3 separate regions of the Homo sapiens genome follow, and all the other regions are linked to region 2. Evidence: fine-mapped expression QTL. A gene starts in region 2. Each other region holds a variant in brackets. All regions are shown on one strand. Distances are from middle to middle. Region 1 overlaps SNHG14 (small nucleolar RNA host gene 14). Region 2 holds the start of SNRPN (small nuclear ribonucleoprotein polypeptide N). Region 3 overlaps SNHG14 (small nucleolar RNA host gene 14).

Evidence for each region.
Region 1: its variant is fine-mapped to the expression of SNRPN in monocytes (Fairfax 2014, PIP 0.95). The same link has a PIP of 0.9 or more in monocytes after LPS and monocytes after interferon gamma.
Region 3: its variant is fine-mapped to the expression of SNRPN in whole blood (TOPMed, PIP above 0.99).

Annotation. Positions count from the first base shown.
Region 1 is chr15:24,909,337-24,912,104 of GRCh38, reverse strand. All of the region lies in intron 3 of SNHG14 (small nucleolar RNA host gene 14), which reads right to left. It also overlaps a transcript of SNRPN not described here, the pseudogene RPL5P1 and the pseudogene RPS27P2. Among named protein-coding and RNA genes, the nearest start is that of SNRPN, 44 kb to the left of the region's middle. The variant A/G (reference allele first, on the strand shown) is at 1,412.
Region 2 is chr15:24,953,611-24,956,378 of GRCh38, reverse strand. SNRPN (small nuclear ribonucleoprotein polypeptide N) reads right to left here and starts at 1,392. Exons shown (of 10, transcript NM_003097.6): 1 at 1,317-1,392. It overlaps SNURF (SNRPN upstream open reading frame), which reads right to left and starts at 1,392. Exons shown (of 3, transcript NM_001394334.1): 1 at 1,317-1,392. The coding sequence starts at 1,330. The region is part of intron 4 of SNHG14 (small nucleolar RNA host gene 14); the gene reads right to left. RefSeq lists enhancers at 1-21, 1-411, 412-977.
Region 3 is chr15:24,988,972-24,991,739 of GRCh38, reverse strand. All of the region lies in intron 15 of SNHG14 (small nucleolar RNA host gene 14), which reads right to left. Among named protein-coding and RNA genes, the nearest start is that of SNORD108, 3.4 kb to the right of the region's middle. The variant G/C (reference allele first, on the strand shown) is at 1,561.

The DNA of each region.
Region 1 (2,768 bases), 44 kb after region 2:
TCAAAACCCAACAAGGCCAACAAAATTCAATCTTGAGGTGTGAGAGTCAGCTTTTTTGATTCTACCTCTCACCTTACAGAGACACTGGGGTAGTGCTTAGGTTCCCAAGCCCCCAGGGGACCCTGCTGCCATGACTGCTGGAGTCAGCCCATGCCACAGTTCTACAGGTTGTAGTCAGGTGTCTATGTCTATTACAGGTTGGAATACGCACTACCGGATCTACAGGTCTGGGTCTAGGAACTCAGGGGTGGCCCTGTCCCTATGGCTCCACTGAGTATTGCCCTAGTGAGGGCACTCTGTGGTGGCCCCAACCCAATAGTTCTGCTGGACATTGCCCTAGTGGGAACTTTCTATGGCAGCCCTGCCCCTACAGCAGTTCTCTGATTGGGCCCTGAGGCATTCTTCAAGGCTTCCTTGGAAATTAGGTGGAGAAAGCCATGCCTTCACAGCTGTGGATTTAGCATGCCTGCAGTTAGCACCACATGCATGCTGCCCCATGTTTTACTACTTGTGTTTTCTGGAGGAGTGATCTGAGCTGTACCTGGGCCCACCTGAACCACAGATGGGGAAGCTTTGCTTGACTTCAGGGAGCAGATACATGAGGCAGCATAGTCAGTGAGCCCCAAGTTCCCACAGGCATCTTGGGTTGCACTGGAATCCTGGGCTCCTTCCTTAAAATTGTTATTCCCTCAAGGACCTGGCACTTTGGGCCTGTGATGGTTGTGGCATTCTCAGTGCTCTCTGAAATGTCTTCAGGGTCATTCTCCCATTGTCTTAATGAATAGCATCTGGCATTCTAGTCATACTAATCTCCTTATGAAACGGTCAGTTGGCCACACAGTTGGTTTTGTCTCCTGAACTTATTTAAAAAATTCTTTACAAGGCCAGGCTGTTAATTTTCCAAATCTTTATGTTCAACTTCCCTTTAAAAATAATTTTCTTTGGCCCTTTCCAGCACTGACGACCTACCCACAAGAACATGCTTCTTGCAAAGGATCTCCTTCATCCCTCTCCAGAAGAGGAGAAGAGGAAACACAAGAAGAAACACCTGGTGCAGAGCCCCAATTCCTACTTCATGGATGTGAAATGCCCAGGATGCTATAAAATCACCACGGTCTTTAGCCATGTGCCAACAGTGGTTTTGGGTGTTGGCTGCTGCACTTTCCTCTGCCAGCCTACAGGAGGAAAAGCAAGGCTTATGGAAGGATGGTCCTTCAGGAGAAAGCAGCACTAAAAGCACCCTGAATCAAGATGAGTGGGAAACCATCTCAATAAACACATTTTGGATAAAATAATGATAATAATAGTCTTTGGCCAGGTGAGGTGCCTCACGCCTGTAGTTCCAGCACTTTGGGAGGCTGAGGTGGGTGGAACACGAAGTCAGGAGTTCGAGACCAGCCTGGCCAATATG[A/G]TGAAACCCCATCTCTACTAAAAATACAAAAATTAGCCGGGTGTGGTGGCGGGCGCCTGTAATCCCAGCTGCTCAGGAGGCTGAGTCAGGAGAATCACTTGAACCCGGGAGGAGGCAGAGGTTGCAGTGAGCCGAGATCGCACCATTGCACTCCTGCCTGGGCGACAGAGCAAGACTCCATCTCAATGATAATAATAATAATAATTAGCATTTTTTTTTGAGATGGGATCTCACTCTGTTGCCCAGACTGTGGTACGATCATAGCTCACTGCCGCCTCGACCTCCTGTGCTGAAGCAACCCTCCTACCTCAGCCTGCAGAGTAGCTGGGACTACAGGTGTGTGCCACCATGCCCAGCTAATCTGCTTCCCTTTTGATTAGAAGTCCTATCTTTTCTCTTCTCACAGTTTACTATAAGCAGTTAAGAGAAGCTATGCAGTACCCTGAAAACTTGGCTTAGAGATTTCTTCTGCCAAATGTCCTAGTTCATCGCTCTTACATTCTACCCTCCAAAAAACTATTAAGACACAGAAATACTTCCACCAAGTTTGTGGCAGGGCAGGCTCCCATTAGCAACCAGAACAGTCAGTTTCCACTGACCCTCTATTATAATTCTAATGAATGTATAAGTTAAACATTAAAGAACTGGAGAAACAGGTGACTGAGCATGAGGGCTGGAATATTAAAATAAACCCATTAAAATGGGCTTTCTTAGCCTAAAGTCTGGTTGAATAATAAAAGCATTTTACACAGATACCTTGTTCCAGGTACCCACTGAAGATTAAAAAGCTTTCCCCTTCTCCCTGCCCCAGCGCCGCTGTGCCTGCTGGTCTCTGTTGAGCTGTGGACGCGGGTCTCTGTTCTGCAGGATGGGGTTTGTTAAAGTTGTTAAGAATAAGGCCTACTTTAAGAGATACCAAGTGAAATTTAGAAGACGATGATGAGAGGGTAAAACTGATTACGATACTCGGAAACGCTTGGTGATACAGGATAAAAATAAATACAACACACTCAAATACAGGATGATAGTTCGTGTAACAAACAGAGATATCATTTGTCAGATTGCTTATGCCCATATAGAGGGGGATATGATAGTCTGCACAGCATATGCACACGAACTGCCAAAATATGGTGTGAAGGTTGGCCCGACAAATTATGCTGCAGCATATTGTACTGGCCTGCCGCTGGCCCGCAGGCTTCTCAGTAGGTTTGGCATGGACAAGATCTATGAAGGCCAAGTGGAGGTGACTGGCGATGAATACATTGTGGAAAGCATTGATGGTCAGCCAAGTGCCTTTACCTGCTATTTGGATGCAGGCCTTGCCAGAACTACCACTGGCAATAAAGTTTTTGGTGCC
Region 2 (2,768 bases):
CAGGGAGGAAGCGGCCACCCCCCCGCTGAAGCGCTTGCGCAGATCTAAGCCGCTGCAGCGGCGGCCATCTTGAAGGAGCTGCACAATGGCAGTGACGCAACACAGACCCCCAGGTTATTTCGACATAGCCTTCCAAGACCTGGTTCCCAACAGAGAGAAACAATGAAAAAAAAGTAACCCCCAGGCATCACCTGGCCTATCAGTCAAAAGATCTGTAAATGCAAGTTCTGCACATCATTCCAGTCTTCTTATGCCATAGCCTCTAAAGCGAGGGTTCCTAAAGGGTACGCAAGGATTCCACGCATTTCTGCAGCCCCTGCGGCAGTGTAGGCATTGCGCAGTTTTAATAAAAAAGCACCACCACCACAGTAGGCAAACCAGATGACCATCGCAGGTCACAGGAAAATTAAAGGCTGCGGACTGTGCTACTGCCCCTTCTGATGCCCCCTCCTCTACACAGCAATCATTCAGCGTCCCTTAGTCACTCCGGACAGCGACAGGCCCCGCGGCCGCCATGCCCACCGCCTCCATGCCATGCCCACCGCCGCCATGCCTACCGCCGCCAAAGTCCACCACCGCCATGCCTACCCGCTGCCAATGCCCACCGCCGCCAATACCCACTGTCGCCGCCTTCCCCCTACCTCCCAGCCACTTCCTACGGACTCTCCCCGCGCCGCGACCACCAACACAACCCCCACCACTGTCACACCGACTCATCCCCCTGGTCCACTGCCATAGCCTCCTCGCCTCGGTCACTGCGACGAATTCCCCCCCCAGTCGCCCCACGTACCCTGCTCCACCACGCAGTGGTCACTATTATACACCTACCTGCGCTCAACACCCCCTAAATACCGATCACTTCACGTACCTTCGCCCCGCCACAATCACTCCAATATACCTACCTCCGCCTAAAATCCCTATGCACTGGTCCCCCCACGTACCCTCGCCACACGGAACTGCAATCACCCTGATGTACCCACCTCCACCCATGTCCCTTGCCCACTGCGGTTACCCCGCATGCTCCCAGTCACCACCGCCCTTCCCACCGCAGACACCCGCAATAGGACCTGTCGCGACACCACAGTTGGGGGCGGATGGGGGACGCGCCCCAATGCGAGCGGACAGGATACCATCGGGGCAGAACGGCACAACAGCAAGCCTCTGAACATTCCGGATCTGGTTCTCCAGAACAAAGGACTTTAGGGCCCAAATTCCGTTTATTCAGTACTCCAAGTCCTAAAAACTTGGAATATCTGATGAATAAAAGTGGCCGCTCCCCAGGCTGTCTCTTGAGAGAAGCCACCGGCACAGCTGACCTTGCCCGCTCCATCGCGTCACTGACCGCTCCTCAGACAGATGCGTCAGGCATCTCCGGCGGCCGCTCCACTCTGCGCCAGACTCGCTGCAGCAGCGGCAGGCTTCGCACACATCCCCGCCTGAGCATGCGCGCCAGCCTGCCTCTGCGGCCGCGCAGGCGTGCTTGTTTGCCGCAGTGCAGGGGTCCCAGCTCCCTCCCTCACCGGAATGACCTGGGGGGAGGGGGCTACTGGACCCCTAGGGCCCCACAGCACTGTTGCAATGAGAGGGGGCCTCTAGAAACCATAAGCAACCTGGGATCAATGGACATGTCTACCTGTTTTTTAAAATGTGTAAAATACTAAAGAAATAATTCTTGGTTCTACAATAAATTTTTGCACACACCACTGGCCAAACAATCCTAATTTACACTCACCCTCAGGTCTTCCTATGTGCGGTACAAAAAAGCTGGTTTGGAAAAGTTAAATGCGCCATAACCACAATCAATGCAAATACGCCAGACTTGAAATCCTTCCAAAAGAAAATATCCCTAACTCTAAAAGCATGCTACATTGTTCAAATTTGGTGCGATTTTTCTACCCTTTTTCTACTTTCTACATTTTGAGGGGGTAAATTGTGAAAATTATCTCCCCCAAAATCACAATATAATTAAACTCTCCTATACGGAATGGATAGATCATTCAACTCAAAAACACTGGCTATTCAATTTTTGTAAAACAAAAATATGAACTTAGACCCCCACCTAAGATCTAAGTAGGAGAGCCTTTCTTTGCCTATTAGAATTGGATACATTAAAATTTTTACCAATAATCAATGATAGCTGGAGTGGGGAGAAACAGGCACTTTTATATAATACTAATGGACAAGTAAACATTATTTACGACATAATATTCTATCTGCAGAAATAACGGAAGCATCAGTAACTCCAAAATTTAGACGCTGATGTAGCTTGGGAAAAGACACTGCAGAAAAGAAGAAAATAATCCTGAAACTGCATCTGCATAGTTTTTACACACATTTGCCCTTTCTCAATTGCCCATTATCGAAGAAGGGAGGGTGATGTGAGTGGAGGTTGACTAAATGGTTAAATCCCCTCCCAAGCCCTGTAAGCTACTGCTCAGTTCCCAATGATCCTACATTAAAACAGGTGCGCAGAGGCTTATCAATGCTGACTTCTATCGTAACAAAATCTCAGAAACTGTGTAATGTTCCTCACAGAGAACAGATAGGCTAACTAAATAAACGTATATATAAATAATAACATGCAATATGGCTGATGGAAAAAATGATGTATTAGGCTGAATCATATAAAATTGTCAATATTGAATTGTTTTGACCTACAAAAACATTGCAATTTCTAATAGTTCATTGATACATATTCACATAAAATAACATGGGAAGTTGACTCTGATCACGGGAGTCAATCGAAAAATAAAATGTAGGCTGGGCAC
Region 3 (2,768 bases), 35 kb before region 2:
AGGATTTTTAATATACATCAGAGGTACTTTAACAATTATATTTCTAAAATCATTTCTTAAAATGTTTCTACATACTTCAGCAAACTAATTGTTAGCAATATCTATGTACCAAGAAAATGTCATAAAACAATTATTTAGAAACTTCAAACACTGTATCCTCAAATGCACATAAACAAAATGCCTTTTTTTCTAATTAACGCTTCCCATGTCATTTTCTATTACCCTTATGCACTCAAAAAGTGAATACAGAATTGTGTATATCTTTAAAAGGTGACCTGAGAATTCCTTTCTAACAACTGTTCCAGAATAAAATTCTAGCAAATAGAAGCTTCCCCAGGAAACCAGTTATTTAGCCACAGCAACTACATTAACAAGCTTAACAGATTCATGTTCAAAATCTAAGTGTTTGCTTTTAACTAATTACATTCCAAGATTATGCAAAAAAATACAACTATTACACATTTAATTTCACTGTCTGGCTTACCTAAGGCACAATGAACAATTCATACACATTTATCATTCAATGTGTATCTTACATTCTCATTTCAATACTATTATCTAAACATAATTTTCCCACATATTTAAACAAACTCGTAAGCTAAATGTCCACGAAAAAAAGTTTATATTATTTGAATATTTGGAGCTCTTTCACAATGCTAGCAGGAGTTGGGGAATGATGTCCTTATTGCATGTGCACACAAGTATATCATGTGCAGGGCTTTTACTGGTAAATCTTCCAAAGGCGAGTGGACTCTCCATAGCAAGAAAAAAAATATTATTGGTTGATGAAGTTCAGGCAAGTATCAATCTATCTTTCTTTCTTCCAAGGTTTTCTAGCTGATGAGGCATGTAGCTGAATTCAACATGTTATCCTTCCCCTTCTATCCATATATTCCTGCAGGGTTGGCTTGTCAACTTGAGTTTGTACAGACTACCCAAAATATTTCAAGTTTTATATATTTGAAATGTTTCTCAATTCAGTAGATAATTCTTTATGCACCTGCCACGCTGTGACTCAGACGGCATTCTGGGGATGAATCCGGATTGAGAGTTGCTGTTCTGATGTTGTAAGGAGCACACAAATAGAGTAGATCTGGACTATGGCTCTACAGAGGACCCTGGCCAAAGACCCTTTAAGGCAGACATCTCCAAGGGGGGTTAGACTTCCACCGCAATCTAGAAATAAAAATGCTCCAGAAGAATCTGTAAACTACAGTTTTCTCCATGCTGGGGTGGTCACTCAGACTACTCACTCCTGTTGATGTATTTCAGTGAAAAAATGGTTCATAAATCTACCCTAAATCATATGTTGCAATCAGTGTTTGTTGCTGCAAAAATTTCTGAAAATTTTTAAGGATGAGAGGATTAGAGTGAGGGAATGCCACAAAATATACAAATCCAAATGTTTGGTGTCCACAAGTGGGTGGTTTCCAGTGTTTATTGTGGCAAAAGATGTTCTAAATATTATAAACGTATGCAATCGTTGTCCTCTTCCTTGATTATTGCTCATTTCTAAAACTCTTGAAACATGACAACTGCTTATTTATTAAGAAAACCTGA[G/C]AAGGTTTGTCTTGTTTTCCCCAAATCAGCTCTGCCAGATAGATGAACTAAAGAACCTGAGGTTAGCAGCAAGGGGAACAGTTGAAAGTATGTGAATACAGTTAAGATGACAGAGCCCTCACAGGGAAGAGTAACTTCAAATCAGTTCTCTAATGGGGTGAACAGTATCTTTTGTACAGTAAGTTTCTAAAGGAAATAATCCTGGTCCATCTTTTTTAAGCTGCAATTTAGCCCATGAATGAAAGCTGTTTCCTTGCTCCTTAGCTGGCATTTCCTTTATACGTCTCTTCAGAATTGACAGTCGAATGTATCACAGTGATCTTAAAAAGATGTTTCTGAATGTAAATGAGTTTGAAATATTTCACAAATTTACTTTCTGCTTATTTTCTTGTTCAATTATCTGTTCATGATTTGTCCATTTTCAGAACAATTTTTCAAGCCTTTTTGTTCACAGAGTTGTAGATCATATTTATGTACACTACAGGAATCAACAGAGTAAATAACCAATATATTTTGCCAACCCAAATATAATAGATGCATTTACATTTATTTTTATGTTGTGAACTACTCTTAACACACCAACAAGTACACCCTCTTATCCTCTCCAACAGCAATGACCTCTTGATTTCCAACAGGTTTGCTCAAAGGACAAGTTCACGTGAACACATGCTTTTTTTTTTTTAACCTGGAATATTTATTCTCCAGTGAGCTAGCCTGAAGCAGGTGGAGGCATCCAATAAAATACAACCTTAAGGAACTACCTTTTCTATTTTTAACAAACCCCGAGTCAGAAATCTGGCAATATCTTAGGAACCTCTCTACTTGATGAAACAGACAACTTTAATTTAAAGCAAGACAGTATGTCCCAATTCCCTACTCTCAGCTATGTGGTACAATGAAATGCCCTTGTTCTTGACCTAAACCCTAAAAAAGAATGGAGGAAAAAAAATCAGGGTGAAACTGACGGCCATACTTTGCCTGTACTCTACTAGAGGGCAAATTTGTTATACTTTCTTCATTCATATATTGACTCTACCAATGACTGTGGTAACAACATACCAATGAAGCAAAAATTGGCTATCCATCAAACACATACTAGATGTTAATTATTACACTAGGCCTTGAAGACAAAGCAGTAAAAAGTACAGTCAAGGCATCTGATAAACCGTTAATGTTTCTTTCTCCCTATAAGGGAAAAATATCAAAAA